2 separate regions of the Homo sapiens genome follow, and region 1 is linked to region 2. Evidence: fine-mapped expression QTL. Tissue or cell type: whole blood. Region 2 holds a variant in brackets; the other region holds the start of a gene. All regions are shown on one strand. Distances are from middle to middle.

What was found. PIP is the estimated chance that this variant, and not a neighbour inherited with it, causes the effect. A credible set is the group of variants that fine-mapping cannot tell apart.
Region 1: ZNF853 starts here. The variant in region 2 is the best candidate, but not a certain one, in a credible set for the expression of ZNF853 in whole blood (TOPMed, PIP 0.57).

What each region holds. Positions count from the first base shown.
Region 1 is chr7:6,609,370-6,620,562 of GRCh38, reverse strand. ZNF853 (zinc finger protein 853) reads right to left here and starts at 4,953. Exons shown (of 3, transcript NM_017560.3): 1 at 4,377-4,953; 2 at 3,256-3,373. The coding sequence starts at 4,388. RefSeq lists enhancers at 5,316-6,069, 6,070-6,823.
Region 2 is chr7:5,860,151-5,870,067 of GRCh38, reverse strand. It overlaps a transcript of OCM not described here. Among named protein-coding and RNA genes, the nearest start is that of OCM, 16 kb to the left of the region's middle. RefSeq lists a silencer at 676-970. The variant G/A (reference allele first, on the strand shown) is at 5,349.

The DNA of each region.
Region 1 (11,193 bases), 750 kb before region 2:
GTAGGTGGCCAAGGGACTGCTGGTGACCTCCCTCTGGACCCCAGCTCCCTGATCCCTCCTTGGAGCTTCCCTTTACACAGGCCCCATGCTCTGATCTCGGCACTGGCACTAGCAGGGATGCTGGGGGCTCCCTGACCATCCTGAGAAGTCTCTTGCGCTTAATCACCCTCCAGTAGAAACCACTGAACTGGCTGTCCCAACGGCCAAGCCATCAACCCCATGCTGAACTCCGACCTTACAGCCACACCTTAAATAAATGAAATTATCCTTCTCTGTAAATAATAAAGAATTTATATAAAGCTGCCCGGAGGTGTTACCACAAGTAGTTTCCCAAAATCACCAAAGTGTCAGAGAGACCACTAGGTTTCAGACAGGAAGTTCTCAGTTCAGAACCTAACTCTACCAGTCGGCAGGTATACAACCTCCTGCAGGCTCACAGTCCTGTCTACAAAATAGCTCAGTGATACCCACACCATCTGCTTAAACAGTACAACAAGGAGAGCCCTGGCATAGTACCTGGAGCCTGGTAGGTGCTTGAAAATTCCCTCTCTCTGAAGGTTAGGATTGGTTTGCAAAGTAACAAAAAAATACCAAGGAGACTGGGACTGTTTGAGATTGTCATTCAGGAATACAAAGGACTAACTAGGCTGGGCGTGGTGGCTCATGCTTGTAATCGCAACACTTTGGGAGGCATAAACCTGGGAGGCCCTGCAAAAACAGCACCACTCCGTTACTACGCTTCTCTTTCCGCACCGTGTACACCATGAGATTCTCGTTTTGAGTATTACTATTGTGCTACTGGAAAATCCCAATCCTTCTTTCTACATGTGACTTGAGGAGGCTTTCTCCGTTCCCAACTCTGATTTCAACATCTCTTCTCCCTATAACATCATATGTTTTCCATTTTGTAATGGAAGACAATGCTTTGATTTATAAAAGTTTGCTTTCTGGCCATTTTTCCAAGAATATATTGATTTAATAAAACCAAGGGATGGCCGGGCGCGGTGGCTCACGCCTATAATCCCAGCACTTTGGGAGGCCGAGGCAGATGGATCACGAGGTCAGGAGATTGAGACCATCCTGGCCAACATGACGAAATCCTATCTCTACTAAAATACAAAAAATTAGTCGGGCGTGGTGGTGTGCGCCTGTAGTCCCATCTACTCGGGAGGCTGAGGCTGGGGAATCACTTGAACCTGAAAGGCAGAGGTTGCAGTGAGCTGAGATCACGCCAGTGCACTCCAGCCCAGCGACAGAGCAAGACTCCTTATCAAAAAAACAAACAAACAAACAAACAAACAAAAACAACAACCCAAGGGACATAGTGAAACCCTGTCTCTACTAAAAATACAAAAATTAGCCGGGCATGGTGGCAGGCACCTATAGTCCCAGCTACTCGGGAGGCTGCAGCAGGAGAACTGCTTGAACCCAGGAGGTGGAGGTTGCAGTGAGTCAAGATTGAGCCACCGCAATCCAGCCTGGGCAACAGAGTGAGACTCTGTCTCAAAAAAAAAAAAAAAAAAAAAAAAATCCACCAAGGGAGATCTGTATGCATATAATTTCCTCTAGTAAAATATTCCTAATAACCTTTGGTTAGGCTAACAGATCCGTGAGCGTGCTTTTCATAGACACTGACATTGGCTGGGGGGAAGCACATGGTAGAAGACAGGGTGAAAACTGTCCCCCCAGCAAGTCCAATGTCTCATGGACCCTCCTTTCTCCCACCTCTTCTGGGAGGAATGAGACAGATCATGCCTCTGTGTTGAGTCTCCTCTTTTCTGGCACAGTCTTGACCACAGGCCACTCTGACTCCCTGGGGCAGCAATTTCAGTTTTTGTTTGTTTGTTTGTTTTAAACAGGATCTCACTCTTGTCACCCAGGCTGGAGTGTAGTGGCGCAATCTCAGCTCACTGTAGCCTCAACCTCTCAAGCTCAAGCGATCCTCCCATCTCAGCCTCTCAAGTGGCTGGGACTATAGGTACACAACACCACGCCTAGCTAATTTTTTAAACTTTTTGTAGAGATGGGGTTTTGCCATGTTTCACAGGCTGGTCTCGAACTCCTGAGCTCAAGCGATCCACCTGCCTCGGTTTCCCAAAGTGCTGGGATTACAGGTGTGAGCCATTGTGCCTGACCTCAGCATTTTTAACAAAGGCATTTTAGTGAACATCTAGTCCAGTGTTGTCTGACGTGTATACCCTCCCAAAGTTTTGTCAGGTAAATTTACAAGTCAGAAGGGTCTTCTTTTCCTCTTCTTCTTTTTTTTGAGACGGACTCTCACTCTGTCACCAAGGCTGGAGTGCAGTGGCATGATCCTGGCTCACTGCAACCTCTGCCTCCTGGGTTCAAGTGATTCTTCTGCCTCAGCCTCCCGAGTAGCTGAGATTACAGGTGCCCACCACACCCAGCTCATTTTTGTATTTGTAGTAAAGACAGTGTTTCACCATGTTGGCCAGGCTGGTCTCAAACTCCTGGCCTCAACTGATCTGCCCGCCTCGGCCTCCCAAAGTGCTGGGATTACAGGAATGAGCCATCATGCTCGGTCAGAACGGTCCTTCTTGACTCCACACATCCCCATCCCACCCCCTCCAATTCCCTTGGTCCTTTTCAAGCTCTGTCCCGCCCTGCCCCAGGCCCTCACTCAGCACCCTTAAAGCACAGAATGGAAACTGGCTCTCATGAGTGTGGCCACCAGAGAAGGTTTGCCCAGAGTGGGTCCCAGAGGAAGAGGTCTTGGAAGGTTCTGCAGTACCACATCTGCCCCTGGGCATCAGGTAGAGAAAAACAGATGCAAGCAGAGGTCAAGCTAAAGTGGAAAAGGTTACGAGGCCACAGGGGAGAAGAAGCCAGGGAGCCAACATCTGGGGCAGGAGGGGCAGAGGAAGAGAGCCTATTAGTACCTGAATCGGATCCGGGAAATTGAGTGGAAATTGACTCAGGAGCTGGGGCCAGGTGGGAGGATGGTGGAGGCCCTCTGGCTGCCAGGAAACACAGCAATGAGTTCCAGCCAGCAGCGCGTGTGAGTGTTAAGTCCAGTCAGCACCCATGTGGGGAGCGGGGAGCCCCTCACCAGCCTGGCCTCAGCCTGCCTGACACAGCCACCTTGGAAAATCTCAAGGGAGAGCTGCTGGTGTTACTCAATGCAGCTGAGGTTGGCTGGTGTGAGTCTGTGCAGGCTGCCCGCCACCCTTGAGCCTCTTTCTGCCACAGCAGGCAGGCATGAGGCTCTGTCAAGGGATCCCCCGAGGCCCTCACCTGAGAGGGTGTCAGGCCCTGGGCCCCCATCCTCAAGACATTGAAGTTCCAGCACGAAGGTCTCGGTGGCTGGCCCCACTTCCATCCTGGCGGTCAGACCCCGATTCCCGGGAGTCGGCTGTGCTGAAAGGAAGGAAGCAGTTTAGCCAGGCTGGAGTGCTTTGACCCCCGCCAGGTGCCCACAGGCCCCCAAAGGCCCTCCACCTCTGCCTCGGGCCACCCAGAGCGGTCAGCTCCATACCTGCTGCAACTATAGGACTGTCCCCCGCAACGGGGAACGGGGAGTGCCGGCGGCCTGGAGGCTCAGGACTGGGGAGTTGGCAGACAGCACCAGAGGCTGTCACCTGCATAGAGGCAGGACTGCCTCTCCTGACTTTTCACAGCGGGATGGAGAGTGGGGTAGCCCCACAGAGACACAACTGTGGGTATCAGCCCTTCACAAGGGAGGAAAGCTAGAGTCACCAAAGGGACATTCAGGGCGGGGAGCTCTGGGGCCAAAGAGAGACTGTCCATCAACATCCTCCCTGCCTCCTTCAATTCTTTTTTTATTAAATACTTTTTTTTTTTTTTCTTGATACGGATTCTCACTCTGTCACCCAGGCTGGAGTGCAGTGGTGCGATCTGGACTCACTGCAACCTCCGTCTCCCCAGTTCAAGCGATTCTCCTGCCTCCGCCTCCTGAGTAGCTGGGGCTACAGGTGCGTGCCATCACCCCCAGCTAATTTTTATGTTTTTTTATATTGTAGATGATGTTGCCCAAGGCTGGTCTCGAACTCCTGGCCTCAGGCGATCCTCCTGCCTCGGCCTCCTAAAGTGTTGGGATTATAGGAGTGAGCCACTGCGCCTGGCGCCCTTCCATTCTATTGCCTTCCTGGCCTGCTCTGAGAAGGCCGCCAGCAGGCCACGTGTGTCAGCTGCCACCCCAGCTCCCGGGCAAGGCAGGTGTCCAGAGCACTGTCACCCACGGCCTGGCCCTGTGCCCAGGCGCTCCTGAGAGTCCACCCTGGCCCGTGCAGAGCTGGCCCCTCTCCCCTAAACAGGCCGACTCGTGCCATCCAGTCCAAACTCTCTCAAGGGACGCGTCCCCGGTTGCCCAGCGCCAACGACCCCCTGGGCCTCACCTGGTGGAGCATTTCCTGCTCCCGGGCAGCCTCTGCGCTAGGGAGGTGTGGTCAGCAGAGGCTGCGAGGTGAAGGCCACGGCGTGCAGCCGGCTCCTTCCGGAGGCGCCTCCATCCAGAAAGAGCCAGGAGGCGCAGGGCCACCCCGGGGGCTTTCTGGGCACTCCGGAGGGTCCACGCCCTCTGGGCTGCCGAGGTCGCCCTGGGCCAAGGGAAGGGGCTGAGAGGAGCGGCCGAGCAGAAGTTGGTGGAGACTCTCCGGCGGGGGCTGGGGCGGGAGGCAGGGCCCCGAATCCCGCGCGGGGCTCAGGGCCGGCCCCCCGGGACCATCGCGGGCAGCGGGATCCAGGCCGGCGCCCGGGGTCGGCACCACGGGGTGGCCCCGCCTGGGGTCGGCGGCGGCCAGGCGACGCGGGTCCTCGGGGGCTACAGGTGCCCGGAGCCTGCGGGCGGCCTGGGCCGGGCCGCGCGGGGGCCGGGGCGGGGGCGGGGCGGGCGCCGCGGCAAGGCCGGGTCCCCCTGGGCTCGCCCGCCCGCCCGGGAGTGCGTCCGTGCGGGCCGCTGGCCGGGCCGGGGGCGGGGGCGCGGGGGCCGGCACAGGAAGTCCCCCCGGCATCCGCATCCTGTCCCCCGCCCCTGCCCGCCCGCCGCGCCCCCGCGCCCCGGCCCCCGCCGCCGCCGCCGCCGTCGCCGCCGCCGCTCTAGGCAGCCGCAGCTCGGTGGGCTTAACCATTCCCGGCCCGGCCACTCACCCGGCCCGGGGGACACGATGCGGCGGCCCCTGGGGCGTCCCGGGCTGGCCGGTGCCGAGCGCAGCGCGCGCTGTGCCGCATCCCTGCTGCGCGTGTCCTCGCGCCACGGGGTTGGCGACTGTCACTGCCTGGGTGTCTGGGTGGGGGGTACCCAACCCGATCCCTGCCACCCCCTAGAGGGCAGGCGTGGCCTCGGGGCGCCCCTGCCGCGGTGCAAATTGTGGCTAATTAGCACACAATTCGATGGCACTCGGAGAGGGAGTAGGCGCCATCCGGGCCCGGCCCGAGCGGGCCCTGGAGAGGCCACCCCGGTCCGCACCGTGGAGCCCTCCTCCTAGACCCCGGGGCTGGGGAGGGCAGGCCAGTAGGGAGTGTGTGCCTCCCTCCCCCGATCAGGGACTGTGACCTGCATAGATCAAATGAGGCCACCGTGGAGAACTGGCAGAGCTGGAATCCTCCCGCCCAGCGCCCCTGCGGCCTTTCGCTGACCACAAGGCTGGTGGTCAGGCCTCCCACCTCCCTCACCCTCTCCTCTCCTCTTTCCCTACTTGGCAAGTGGATTCCTGCCTGGGTCAGGGGTCTTCTCCAAGGGAGGCCTTCCCTAACCCCGTCTTAATGTTGCACCACCTAACTTTCCTGTTCTCGGTGCACAAACCTCTCTAACCTGGAGAATTCAAATTCAAATTGGGATGCTCAAATTCTTTAGAAAAAACCAAAGATCTGGGGGCAGGGCATGGTACTTCACGCCTGTAAACCCAGCATTTCGGGAGGATCACTTGAGGCTGGTAGTTTGAGACCAGCCTAGCCAACATAGCAAGACCCCATCTCTACAAAAGAGGTTTTTAAAAAATTAGCTGGGCTACTGAAAAGTAGCCTGTAATCCCAACTACTTTGGAGGCCAAGGTGGGTGGACCACTTGAGCCCGGGAGGAGGTCGAGGCTGCAGTGAACTATGATCGCGCCACTGCACCCCAGCCTGGGTGATAGAGTGAGACCCTGTCTCCATCTAAAAACAAGCAAACATGCTGGGCGCGGTGGCTCACGCCTATAATCCCAGCACTTTGGGAGGCCGAGGCGGGCAGATCACCTGAGGTCTGGAGTTGGAGACCAGCCTGGCCAACATGGAGAAACTCCATCTCTACTAAAGATACAAAATTGGCCGGGCATGGTGGCACATGCCTGTAACGCCAGCTACTCTGGAGGCTGAGGCAGGAGAATCGCTTGAATCTGGGAGGTGCTCCTGGGGTGCAGCAGGAATGCCCCCCTGGTGGGGGACAAGAGCCCTCAGGGTTCACAGCCCCCTCCCTTCCTCCTGTCCCTGGGCTCACACTGCTGTGGCACAGGTGGCCACCTTGTCCTGTTTTTGGAATCTCTCTGGCCCCCACAGGCACTGGAGTTTCAGGCTTCCTTTCTGGCCCTTGCCTGAAAAGCCTGCACTCTGGTGGCTTCTGCCCCAGGCTAGAAAAAGTGCAGCAAGAGCCTGGCTTTGGAGACAGAGTCATCTAGGGTCATGGGACCTTTTGCAGCCAGGTAACTGCAGGCAAATGACTGCCTTGCGTCTGTGAAGTGGAGATGACAGCCTGCTAGGCAGGATAAGGACGAGCAGATAAGGTGAGGAGGATATGGGCAGGAGTTTAAGATCAGAGCAGGTGTGCACCTGCCTCTTCTAGCCTCCTGCAAACCCTCATGCCCTGAGGAGCCCCTCCCTCCTCAGGTCTTTATCCTCTCCCTCCACTGGCTTCTTTCTGACAGGATTTACACATCCTCAGGGCTCTCCCATCTTAAAAACATGCTACCCGGGCCAGGCGCAGTGGCTTATGCTTGTAATCCCAGCACTTTGGGAGGCCAAGGCAGGAGAATCGTGAGAGCCCTGGCTTTGGAGGCTGCAGTGAGGCATGATCATGCCACTGCACTCCAGCCTTGGCGACAGAGCAAGACTGTCTGCTGGCCGGGCACGGTGGCTCACGCCTGTAATCCTAGCATTTTGGGAGGCTAAGGTGGGCAGATCATGAGGTCAAGAGATAGAGACCATCCTTGCCGACATGGTGAAACCCTGTCTCTAATAAAAATACAAAAAAAAATATATATATATATATATATATATAGTTTGGCGTGGTGGCGCATGCTGTAGTCCCAGCTACTCAGGAGGCTGAGGCAGGAAAATCACTTGAACCCAGGAGGCAGAGGTTGCAGTGAGCCGAGATCACGCCACTGCACTCCAGCCTGGCGACAGTGTGAGACTCCGTCTCAAAAAAAAAAAAAAAAAAAAGACTGTCTGTAAAACATAAAAGAGCTACCCACTTCTCTCTCCTGCCCTTGACAGCCAAACTTCCTTTGCCATATCCCCATCTGCCCATCCCTCCTTCTCCTCTCTGACCTGGCCTCACTGCAGCCAGACAACTCCCCGTGACGTCACCAGCAATGTCCACGTCACTAAACCCTCATCATATTTGGCCTCTGGGCAGCACTGGACACTTCTGCCATGCTGTCCAGGGAGAAACACCTCGGTTCACCTTCCTCTTGGCCCCTTCTCTGACACCTTGCAGGCTCTGCTCCCCTCCCCTAGGCTCGTTGCTCACCTGTGCCACCAGAGAGGGGTCCCACCCAGTCCACACACAGTTCCTCCCACTGAGCTTTTTGTGGTTTGTTTTTGAGACAGGGTCTCACTCCCATTGCCCAGGCTAGAGTGCAGTGGCACAATCACAGCTCACTGCAGCCTCAACTTCCCAGGCTCAGGTGATCCTCCCATCTCAGCCTCCCAAGTAGCTAGGACTACAGGGATGCACCACCACACCAGGCTAATTTTTTTTGTTGAGACGAGGTCTCCCTATGTTGCCCAGCCTTGTCTTGAACTCCTGGCCTCAAGCAATCCTCCCACCCCAGCCTCCCAAAGTGCTAGGATTAACAGGCATGAGCCACTGCACCCAGCTATTTTATTTATTTATTTATTTAGAGATGGAGTCTTGCTCTGTCACCCAGGCTGGAGTGCAGTGGCGTGATCTCAGCTCACTGCAACCTCTGCCTCCCAGGCTCAAGTGACTCTCCTCCCTTAGCCTCCCGAGTAGCTGGGAACTACAGGTATGTGCCACCACGCCTGGCTAATTTTTGTATTTTTAGTAGAGACGGGGTTTCACCATGTTGGCCAGGCTGGTCTCAAACACCTGACCTCAAGTCATCCACCCGCCTCAGCCTCCCAAAGTGCTTGGATTACAGGCGTAAGCCAGCATGCCCGGCCTGGGCTAGAATCTTTTTTTTTTAGATGGAGTTTCACTCGTTTCCCGGGGGGAGTACAATGGCTTGATCTCGGCTCACCACAACCGCCACCTCCCAGGTTCAAGTGATTCTCCTGTCTCGGCCTCCTGAGTAGCTGGGATTACAGGCACAAGCTACCACACATGGCTAATTTTTGTATTTTTAGTAGAGACAGGGTATCACCATGTTGGCCAGGCTGGTCTCGAACTCCTGACCTCAAGTGATCCACCTGCTTTGGCCTCCCAAAGTGCGGGGATTACAGGCATAAGCCAGCATGCCCGGCCCCAGCTAGAATCTTTTAGTAAGCCTTCCCACATCCTCCTTTGGAGCTATAAATACCTCCCAGCTCAACTTTCCACCTAGCCAATCTGGTCAGGAAGGTATTTGCTTCACTGTTTCCCAGGGGCGTTTCTTCAGGGGCTTCCTCCCTGCAGACCCACACTGGGCAGGCTGCTGTCAGAGCTGCTGCCCACTGTCAACCTGGGACCCCCCCCTCCACCGCCGTCCTTCCGGGATTTGCCTTTGTTATCCTCATACTAATCCCTGTTCTCACACCATGTCTGTCTCTTTCTTATTTTTTGAGTCAAGATCTTGCTCTGTTACCCAGGCTGGAGTGCAGTCGTGCCATCATGGCTCACTGCAGCCTTGAACTCCTGGGTTCAAGTGATCTTCCTGTCTCAGCTTTTCCTTTTTTTTTTTTTACAGAGTCTTGCTCTGTTGCCCAGACTGGAGTGCAGTGGTGCAATCTCAGCTCAGTGCAACCTCCACCTCCCAGGTTCAAGTAATTCTCCTGCCTCACCCTCCTGAATAGCTGGGATTACAGGTGCCTGCCACCACACCCAGCTAATTTTTGTATTTTTAGTAGAGATGGGATTTTGCCATGTTGACCAGGCTGGTCTTGAACTCCTGACCCCGTGATCCACCTGCCTCGGCCTCCCAAAGTGCTGGGATTACAGGTGTGAGCCACTGTGCCCAGCCCTGTCTCAGCTATAGATTATAGATTGGCAATTGTTTCCCCTCAGAATGTTAAAGACACTTTTTTTTTTTCCAAGACAGAGTCTCACTCTGTCTCCTAGGCTGGAGTGCCGTGGTGCAACTAACAGTTTCATTGTCTTCTAGCTTCCAGAGTTGCTAGTAGAGAAGTCCAGTGCCATTTTGATTATTGATCCTTTGCGCCTGAGAAGAAAAGCTGGTGGGCCAGTAGCAGGTGCCTTGAAAGGGAGTGGAATAAGACAGACTTAGAGCTGCTCCCAGACGGCAGCTGTGGGGCTGCAGGAAGTTTGTCTCCTCCTGGAGATGATGGAAAAGATTTGGATTCTGTTCTGGGGAGGAGCAGCAGACTAGGGAGAAACACCAAGATTAATGCTGCAGTGAGCATCGATGATGCTGCCCTTCATTTTAATAGAGCACGTTCTCAAGAGTCCTTCCCTAGAAATGCTTGCATTCTCTGAATAGAATAAAAAGGAAAATAAAAATAATACAATTTTAAAAAACGGAAAGCATGCATTGGCAGTGGTCTAGTGTGCAAATGTCGGTTGTCACTCTTCAGGTCAAACACCCAATAAATGCCATCAACCGTGCCAGGACAGGGAAGTGTGTTGCATGAAAATAATCAGCCAGGAACGGTGGCTCACGCCTGTAATCCCAGCACTTTGGGAGGCCGAGGCAGGTGGATCACAAGGTCAAGAGATCGAGACCATCCTGGCCAACATAGTGAAACCCTGTCTCTACTAAAAATACAAAAATTAGCTGGACGTGGTGGCAGGTGCCTATAGTCCCAGCTACTTGGTAGGCTGAGGCAGGAGAATCACTTGAACCCAGCAGGTGGAGGCTGCAGTGAGCCAAGATGACACTACTGCACACCAGCCTGGTGACAGAGTGAGACTCTGTGTCAAAACAACAAGCAATTGGGGTTCAAGTGATTCTCCTGCCTCAGCCTCCTGAGTAGCTGGGACTACAGGTGCACATCATCCCACCTGGCTAATTTTTGTATTTTCAGTAGAGACGGGGTTTCACCATGTTGGCCAGGCTGGTCTTGAACTCCTGACCTCAGGTGATCTGCCCACCTCGGCCTTCCACAGTGCTGGGATTACAGGCATGAGCCACTGCGCCCAGCCAATTTTCTCTTTTTTGAAACAGAATTTCACTGTCACCCAGGCTGGCATGCAGTGGCACAACCTTGGCTCACTGCAGCCTCTGCCTCCTGGGTTCAAGCGATTCTCCTGCCCCAGCCTCCCGAGTACCTGGGATTTTACAGGCGCACACCACCACGTCCAGCTAATTTTTGTATTTTTAGTAGAGATGGAATTTCACCATGTTGCTAAGGCTGTTCTCGAACTCCTGGCCGCAAGTGATCCGCCCACCTTGGCCTCCCAAAGTGCTGGGATTACAAGCGTGAGCCACTGCGCCCGGCCCCAGGAGGTTCAATTTCTTCCCTGCAAGGTAAGCTCCATCTTTCAGTGCTCCATGTTTGCTGTCTCTCACTTCAGGCTAGGAGAGCCAGTGACATGGTTCCTGATCTTTCCTTCCTCCTGAAGTCAGTTAAGGGAGGACTCCAAGCAGACACCTTCCCTTTTCAGTAGGAAAAAGATCCCCGACGGCTGTTTTGTACCTGAGAGAAGAAATGTGACCCAAAGCAAATAGACCTGAAGCAGGCTGGGCGCAGTGGCTCACGCCTGTAATCCCAGCACTTTGGGAAGTCGAGACTGGTGGATCACCTGAGGTCAGGAGTTCGAGACCAGCCTGGCCAACATGGTGAAATCCTGTCTCTACTAAAAATACAAAAATTAGCCAGGCGCGGTGAAGGGCGCCTGTA
Region 2 (9,917 bases):
CTCTGCCCAAAATATATAATAACGAAGAAAACAAAGCAAAGATGTCACAGCTATGGTTTTGTTGCTATGAGAATACTCTTGTCAAGGCTGGAGGATGGCGCAAACATACTGTATTTAACCGCTTGTCAGTTTCACTTGCAATTCACACACGTGGCGCGTGGGCCTCTGTGCTCTTGTCCTGGGTCAGCCAATGTCAGGGGCGGGAGCAAGGGTATGAATGCTTCAAGAAGGAAGGATGGACCCGGCAAGTTGAGTGCTTCCGAGAGGTTAGGATGAGGCTGCCAGGGCAAGCACGTGCGGATTATGGGCAGGGCGGTGAGTTGTTGCTGGGTAGTGCAGAAGAAGCTGTTCTGGGGTAACGCAGGTGGGAGCAGGTAGGAGGGGACTGGAGAAGGGTGCAGGTGGGAATGAGATCATAGGGGAGGATACAGTGCTGCAGGAAATATATTTTTTAAATTTTTAAATTTTCTTTTTTAGATGGAATCTCTGTTGCCATGGCTGGAGTGCAGTGGTGCCATCTCGGCTCACTGCAACCTCCACCTCCTGGGTTCAAGTGATTCTTCTGTCTCACCCTCCTGAGTAGCGGGGACTACAGGCACACACCACCATGCCTGGATAATTTTTGTATTTTCAGTAGAGACAGGGTTTCACCATGTTGGTCAGGCTGGTCTCGACCTCCTGACCTCAAGTGATCCACCTGCCTCGGCCTCCCAAAGTGCTGGGATTACAGCCATGAGCCACCGTGCCCAGCCAGAGCTGCAGGAAATATTTTAAGACTCCAGCTGCCAATGGCCTTGGGGAAGGGGTATGTTCACAGGTGTGTCTAGGAGGGCCTGGCACCCCCTCGTGGGGAACACTCATGCTTCCTGAGTTCCTCTCTTCTCTCTTTTATTCCTGAAGCTTTCTGTCAGTACTGTATTCAGAATACCAATGGTATGAAGTCAGCCTAGCTATGTGGAACTTTGGACTCAGTCCTTTTTGTTTTGTTTTGTTTTGTTTGTTTTTGAGACAGAGTCTCACTCTGTTGCCCAGGCTGGAGTACAATGGCGCGATCTCAGCTCACTGCAACCTCTGCCTCCCGGGTACAAGCAATTCTCCCATCTCAGCCTCCCAAGTAGCTGGGATTACAGGCGGACACCACTATGCCTGGCTAAGTTTTGTATTTTTAGTAGACACAGGGTTTCACCATGTTAGCCAGGCTGGTTTCGAACTCCTGACCTCAGGTGATCCACCTGACTTGGCCTCCCAAAGTGCTGGGATTATAGGCATCAGCCACCGTGCTCGGCCTGGACTCAGTAGCATGAGTACTGGTCTGACTTTCTGGGTAGCCCAGAGCTGTTATGGGTGTCAGACTTCACGTTCCCAGTGCCTTCTAACTGACCCTCAAAGGAAGACAGAAGCTACATCATTTCTTATTGAAATGCTGCAGGAGAGGACAATTCCTTAAAATTATCTGAGAGACTACTGGCTATGTCTTTTTTCCCCCTCACTCTTAGACACTTGCTCTAAATTACTCAGTGAAACTGATGGCAAAATCCCTTTAGACCTTTGGCTGGCTGTGTCTTCGTGAGCTCACTAGAGCATTGTTGGGGGAAGAAAAGGCTGAAATAAAGATGGGAGTGGCCGGGCGCGGTGGCTCACACCTGTAATCCCAGCACTTTGGGAGGCCAATGTGGGAGACCATTTGAGGCCAGGAGTTCAAGACCAGCCTGAGCAACATAGTGAGACCCCCATCTCTACAAAAATTAAAAAGTTCTCCTGGGTGTGGTGGTGCATGCCTGTGACTCCAGCTACTCAGGAGGTTGAGGCAGGAGAATCGCTTGAGCCCAGGTGGTTGAGGTTGTAGTGAGCTGTGATCTTGCCACTGCATTCCAGCCTTGGTAGGCCCTGTCTCCAAAAAAACAAAACAAAACAATAGCGACAACAAAACACAGTGAAGCTAGAGAAGAAAAATACACTGGATGGGATTAGCAAATTAGACACCGAAGAAAAAAAGAGTAATGAGTTTGAAAACATAGCAATGGAAAAGATGCCGGGTGCGGTGGCTCACTCCTGTAATCCCAGAACTTGGGGAGGCTGAGGTGGGTGGATCACTAGAGCTCAGGAGTTTGAGACCAGCCTGGACAACATGGTGGAACCCCATCTCTACAAAAAAATTTTAAAAAGTAGCCAGGTGTGGTGGTCCCAGCTACCGGGGAGGATCACCTGGGCCCAGGAGGTCAAGGCTGCAGTGAACCAAGATTGTGCCACTGCACTCCAGCCTGGGCAACATAGCAAGACCCCATCTTAGAAAAAACAACCCCCCAAAACAGAACCAGTCCCCTCCCAAACACCCCCACATCACAATAGAAAAGATACAAGCTGAAACACAGAGAGAAACAATTCTGGAAGAAATAAAACCAGACATCAGTGAGCTACTGGACAACTTCAAGTGGCCTAATATACATGTAATTGGAGTCTCAGAGAAAAGGAGAAAGAGGAGGGACCAGAAAAATATTTGAAGAAATAATGGCAGAAAATTTTCCACATTGGATGAAAGCAGGCTCAAGAAGCTCAATGAACCTCCAGAAAAAATAAGAGGAGGAAAAAGGAGGAGGAGGAAGAGCCAACACGTATAAAGGGCGCATTATTATAAAATTGTTTAAAACCAGTGATAAAGAGAAGATGAAGGTCATAAAGGCAGCCAGAAAAAAGAGACACAATATGTTCAGAGGAACAAAGAAAAGATTGACATCAGACTTCTCTTCTTTTTTTTTGAGATGGGGTCTTGCTATGTTGCCCAGGCTTGTCTTGAACTCCTGGGCCCAAGCGATCCTCCTGAGTAGGTGGGATTACAGGTGCACGCCACTGCACCGAGTGACATCAGACTTCTGATCAGAAACAATGCAGGCCAGAAGGCAAGGAGGAATTTTTTTTAAAGAACTGCAAGGAAAATGAACAAACAAACTATTGTGGATGGACACAAAGATTTTGCTTCTCTTAGCAATTGGAAATCACCTCAACGTCCAATGTGCAGGGATTTGTTAATTGATGGGCCATAAAAAATAAAAGGATAGTCTACAAGTCTACTTAATGATATGGAAAAATATCCACCACATATTGTAAAGTGAAACAGGCACTACGTTAAATGTATTTTGTAAATTGGAAAATATATATTTATAGACACAGGACGGCGGTTATAGGGACTGGACCTTACACAATTGTGGGAGCGGGTTACATGGTAACCAGTGCCAACCTCCACCCTCCACAGATATGTCTTCTTGCTCACAATAAACTGGAACTAGACAGGGAGGGGAAATTTAGGAAATGCAGTCCCAGTTTTGCTAAATTGACACAATATGTATCCACCACATATCAGTAAAAGACTACAGAGAAATTCACCCAAATGGTTTTAGCAGTTATTACTGGGAGTTGAGTGAGTTTAAATTCTCAGTACACAGGTCAGATGTCAGAAAATCAAACAACACATTTGGTTTTTTAATATAATAAGTCAACGAAATTTTCACTCCAATCCCTCCCATCCTATCAAGGAGGCAGGAAATTCAACATCCTTCCTTCCCTCCCTCCCTCCTTTCCTAACTTCCTTTTCTTTCTTCTTCCCTCCCTCCCTCCCTTCCTTCTTCCCTCCTTGTCTTCCCCCTCCCTCCTTCTCTCCCCCCCTTCCTTCTTTCCTTCCTCTCTTCCTCCTTTCCTCCCTCCCTTCCTCCTTTCCTCCCTCCCTCTCCCCCCCACTCCTTCCTTCTGTCCTTCATCTCACTCTGTTGCCCAGGCTGGAGTGCAGTGGCACACTCATAGCTCAGTGTCACCTTGAACTCCTGGGCTCAATGGCTCCTTCTCACCTCAACCTCTAAAGTACCTGGGACTACAGGCACACACCACCAGAACCAGCTAATTAAATTTTTTTTTTTTGTAGAGACTGGGGTTTTGCTATGTTGCCCAGGCTGGTGTTCAGCTCCTAGCCTCAAGTAATCCTCCTCCTTCAGCCTCCCCAGACACTAGGATTGCAGGCACGAGCCAGTGCACCCAGCAGAAAAATACTGGACTTTTGTACAAATACCTATGCTATTCATGAATAGCCCTTAAACTGCCCTGAAATTATGGGACTGAAGTGATTAAAATCTTTATCCAAATGAAGACAACTCTGTTATTATCAAGAGTGCGGCATATTTGACCTACATCTAGATGTGTATATGCATTTTCTTTTCCGAAAATGAATAAAAGAACAAAAGATTTCAGTATTGTTGTTACCTATGTATTAAATGCACAGTTAAACTCACTGTCTCTAAATGCACAGGGTATGTGTTGCCCAAGCCCAGGACAGTTCTCTGGGACTTCCAGGTCGCAGCTGAGCATGTTTCATTTCCTGAATTTAGTGTTCTCCCATCGCTAGAGGTGATTCATGTTCATTAATTAGGTTGGTGCAAAAGTTATTGTGGTTTTTGCATTATTGCAACTGTAATATAATTTTGCAATTATAACTTTTGCACCAGCCTAATAAAAAAACACCTTGGCTGACAAGCTATGGGAATGGGATGGCCACCATAAATGACCTTCACGGTGTTCTAAAAAGCAGTGGCTTCCAGTTCAGAAGCGGTTTGCTGCCCTCTGTCTAATGAGTTGGGGTTCTCTTTCTCCTCCACTTTCTAGGGTTTTGATGCCTCTTAGCGTCACCATCTCTCATTTGGGGAGCAATTATGAATCGTTAGTAAAAGCTCAACTTTTTTAAGAAGCAAAACCAGGAAGAAAATTCAGCATGTCCTGGTTTTCTAGACGGCATCCTCAAAGACCACACCCAGGCGCTTAATAATTTAGCCTTTTGGGCAAAGTTCTCATTAGAATAGATCAAAAACATGAATAATGCAGGCATTTGCAAATCACACTACTCGTCGGCCCCGACGCTGGCCAGGAAACACCTGAAGCAGTTGCAGTGGGGCTCAGGGTGACTGGATCGGGTGACTGGGTCATGATGACAACAAATTTGGTTAATGGGAATCCCAGGTCATATCCGATGGTATCAAACTACAGCTGCTGCCCGCTGTCTTCCACAGGTCTTTCAAGTCAAATGTCTCATGCCAGTCAAAATTCCTGCCAGGAAATCACACTCTATTTCCCTAGTTCTTTTTTTTTTTGAGAGGGAGTTTCACTCTTGTTGCCCAGGCTGGAGTGTAATGGTGCGATGTCGGCTCACTGCAACCTCCGCCTCCCGGGTTCAAGCAATTCTCCTGCCTCAGTTTCTCAAGTAGCTGGGATTGCAGGCACGCACCACCACGCCCGGCTAATTTTGTATTTTTAGTAGAGATGGGGTTGCTGGTCTCAAACTCCCAACCTCAGGTGATCCGCCTGGCTTG[G/A]CCTCCCAAAGTGCTGGGATTACAGGTGTGAGCCACGGTGCCCGGCCTATTTGATTTATTCTAATGAGAACTTTGCCCAAAAGGCTTAATTATTAAGTGCCTGGGTGTGGTCTTTGAGGATGCCGTCTAGAAAACCAGGACATGCTGAATTTTCTTGCTGGTTTTGCATCTTAAAAAAGTTGAGCTTTTACTAACGATTCATAATTGCTCCCCAAATGAGAGATGGTGACGCTAAGAGGCATCAAAACCCTAGAACGTGGAGGAGAAAAGAGAACCCCAACTCATTAGACAGAGGGCAGCAAACCCCTTCTGAACTGGAAGCCACTGCTTTTTAGAACACCGTGAAGGTCATTCTTCCTTTTTTTTTTTTTTTGAGACAAGGTCTCCCCCTGTCACCCAGGCTGGAGTGCAGTGGTGCGATCACAGCTCACCGCAGCCTCAACCTCCTGGGCTCAAGTGATTTCCCCTACCATAGCATCCCCCCCAACCAGGAGCTGGGACCACAGGCATGCACCACCATGCCTGGCTAATGCTTTATTTTTTGTAGAGACGGGATCTCATCATGTTGCCCAGGCTGGTCTTGCACTCATGGGCTCAAGCGACCCTCCTGCCTCAGCCTCCTAAAGTGCCGGGATTTCAGGTGTGAGCCACAGCACCTGGCCCCCTCTTTGCCCCCCTTGTTCCCCAGATCATTCTTGCATTCCTGATCTCCTTCTCAAACCCCAACATGTCTTCATCCTCAGCAGATGACCTTGCCTTCTCCTTAACTGAGAAAATACTAACGACCAGAGGAGAGTGTCCCCAGGTTCCCTAGACAACATCGGCCCTCTCCCAGCCTCTGCATCCACTCACTCTGCCTTCCTGCCTTAGCTATAACATGAACCATCAGGCCGGGTACAGTGGCTCACGCCTGTAATTCCAGCACTTTGCGACGCCGAGTCAGGCAGATCATGAGGTCAGGAGTTTGAGACCAGCATGGCCAACATGGTGAAACCCCATCTCTACTAAAAATACAAAAAATTAGCTGGGCGTGGTGGTGCGCACCTGTAATCCCAGCTACCTGGAAGGCTGATGCAGGAGAATCGCTTGAACCCAGGAGGTGGAGGTTGCAGTGAGCTGAGATCATGTCATTGCACTCCAGCCTGGGTGACAGAGCAAGACTCCATCTTGAGAAAAAAAAAAAAAAAATGAACCATCCACATCCTATCTAAAGCCAGCCCCTCAGCCATCTAAACTGGATTCCATTCCTGCCACCCTCTCAAGCACGTCACTCCACGTACTCCCTCTTCCCTCTCCTGTGCCATCAATTTCTCTCTCCCTAATAGATCTTTCCCATTAACATAATATTAACCGAAAAAGGGAATGAGTCATGAGTCCCCATTGACTGAGGTTGATGCAGCAGTTTGAGGACACGCCCGGGAGGAACATCAGCCACAGGAGCATCTGTGACCTGTGAGTTTCCAAAGAGGGTTTGGGAACTTCACTATTTAAAGGGGAAAGAGCAAGCAGGAGGGATAAAGGAAGGGAGGGTAGGCAGAGAGGCAAATGGTCCCATTCTCCCAAGGCTCTGATTAGCGATCAATAAATCTACATTTTACATGTCAATGAGGCATTCCTCTCCAGCTCAGGAAATCTACATTTTACATAAGGTAAAGTAAATATGTGAAAAAAGGAGTAAAGAGTCCATGATGCATTCATCTTGAGCTCAGTAAATCTACATTTTACATAAGATAAACGTATGAAAAGAGGGAGTAGAGGAGTCCATGTTGCATTCATCTCAAGCCCAGTAAATCTACATTTTACATAAGATAAACATGAAAAGAGGGAGTAAAGAGTCCATGATGCATTCATCTTGAGCTCAGTAAATCCACATTTTACATAGGATAAACATGTGAAAAGAGTAGAGGAGTCCATGATGCATTCATCTTGAGCTCAGTAGATCTACATTTTACGCAAGATAAAGTAAACTTGAAAAGGAGTAGAGTCTGTGATGCATTCATCCTAAGCCCAGTGAATCCACATTTTACATAAGATAAACGTGAAAAGAGGGAGTAAAGAGTTTATGCTGCATTCATCTTGAGCTCAGTAAATCTGCATTTTACATAACATAAAGTAAACATGAAAAGAGGGAGTAGGGGAATAGGGCCATGCTGCATTTATCTCAGGGTAGGTGGAAGGATGATTTACGATCTTGTCCTTGTCCTATCCATGTGAAAATAAGCTGGTAATCGACATTGTCAGTGTGAGATTTAACAGAACTTGCTTTTAGGGCTAGTTTATAGGGGGAGATGTATCCTGAAAGAATTAGGGGCTCACTTTGTGAGCAACTTGTGAGGGAGCCATCTGGGAAGATACGTAACGTTCTGTCTTGGTGGGCACCTGGCTTATGCATGAGGCTAGAACATGGGGTTATGAAAATACAGCTCTCCATTTGGGAACAAAAGGGAAGGCAGTATTGCATGACTCAGTTTCCAAGCTTGACTTTCTCTTTGGCATAGTGAGTTTGGGGTCCTGAGAATTTACCTTCTTTCACAATACAAACATGCTGGTGTATGGATCCTGTCTTTAAAACGAACTTTCAGTATGGATGGCAAACGAGCACATGAAAAGATGCTTAACGTTATTCATCATTAGAGAATGCAGATTAAAGCCACTGTGAGGGCCCAGGGGCACACGCCTGCAGTTCCACCCACTCAGGAGGCTGACGCAGGAGGATCACTTGAGCTCAGGAGTTTGAGGCTGTAGTGTGCAATGTTCGTGCCTGTGAACAGCCACTGTACTCTAGCCTGGGTAACATAGCAAGACCCTGTCTCTAAAAAAATTTTTTTAAATTAAAAAGTAGGCCGAGTGTGGTGGCTGATGCTTGCAATTTCAATGCTTTGGGAGGCCGAGGCGGTAGGATCACTTGAGCCCAGGGGTTTGAGACCAGCCTGGGCAACATAGTGAGACCCTGTCTCTAACAACAACAACAAATTATAAATAAATAAATAAATAAAACCACAATGAGATGCCAATACACATTAATGAAAATGTCCAAAATGAGGAGGGCTGACCCATGCCAAGCACTGGTGAGAGAGGAACTGGAACCCTCCTTCCCTGCTAAACTCACTTTCCTCTGAATAAGAAATGCATTACCCAAGTACTGAGCAACTCTCTTGGCTCTCCTTCCGCTCTTCAACATGTTTTCCTTCCTGAATGTAAATTTCCTTTGGAAAACACAGTGGAAGTGTCTATCACATGACCCAACTGGTTCTATTCCAACTTCCTCCCCAAGAACTGGGATTCTTTTTTTTTTTTTAAGACAGAATTTCGTTCTTGTTGCCCAGGCTGGAGTGCAATGGTGCGATCTCAGCTCACTTCAACCTCCGCCTCCTGGGTTCAAGCCATTTTCTTGCCTCAGCCTCCCAAGTAGCTGGGATTACAGGCACGCAGCACCAAGCCCGGCTAATTTTGTATTTTTAGTAGAGATGGGGTTTCACCGTGTTGGCCAGGCTGGTCTCGAACTCCTGACCTCAGGTGATCTGCCTACTTCAGCCTCTCAAAGTGCTGGGATTACAGGCGTGAGCCACCGCACTGCACTCGGCCAGAACTGGGATTCTTAAAGCACATCTCCCTCCCATCCTGCTAAAAACCAGCAACAACTATAACCACCACCACCTGTGGCACACACATTTGGTGTCAGCATTAGCGAGCCACCTCCAGGCTACCCCATTTGAGGACTTCTTGCCAAGAAGTTCTCCAGCAGTTTTCACCCAAAACCTGTTCTTGCTGTTTTTGCTCTCTGGCCAACTCTGTGGTCACTAAATCAATGTTTCACTTTTTCAGCAGGAACAACAATAAATAAATAAATATATATATGTATATGTATATGTATGTGTATATATGTGTGTGTGTATATATATGTATGTGTGTATGTGTGTATATATATGTATATATACACGTATATATACGAATATATATATACGTATATATGTGTATATATACGTGAATATATACACGTATATATACACGTATATATACGTAATAATATATACACACGTATATATACACGTATATATACGTAATATATATACACACGTATATATACACGTATATATACGTAATATATATACACACGTATATATACACGTATATATACGTAATATATATACACACGTATATATACACGTATATATACGTAATATATATACACACGTATATATACACGTATATATACGTAATATATATATACACGTATATATACACGTATATATACGTAATAATATACATACACGTATATATACACGCATATATACGTAATATATATATACGTATATATACACGTATATATACCTAATGATATATATATATATATGCATATATATATACACACACACACATACGGAGAGCCCCAAACTGCTTAGGCATGTGTGAAATGCTATAGCAGAAAAGAAACAAAATGGTATAGGACGCTGATTTTTTCATGAACAAGAAATGTGAGCGGCTCCGTCTCAACTTACGGATGAGCTGGAGGCAACATTTAATGAAGACTTAAGTGAGTTAATTAAGGAGAAATTGCAACTAAACCCC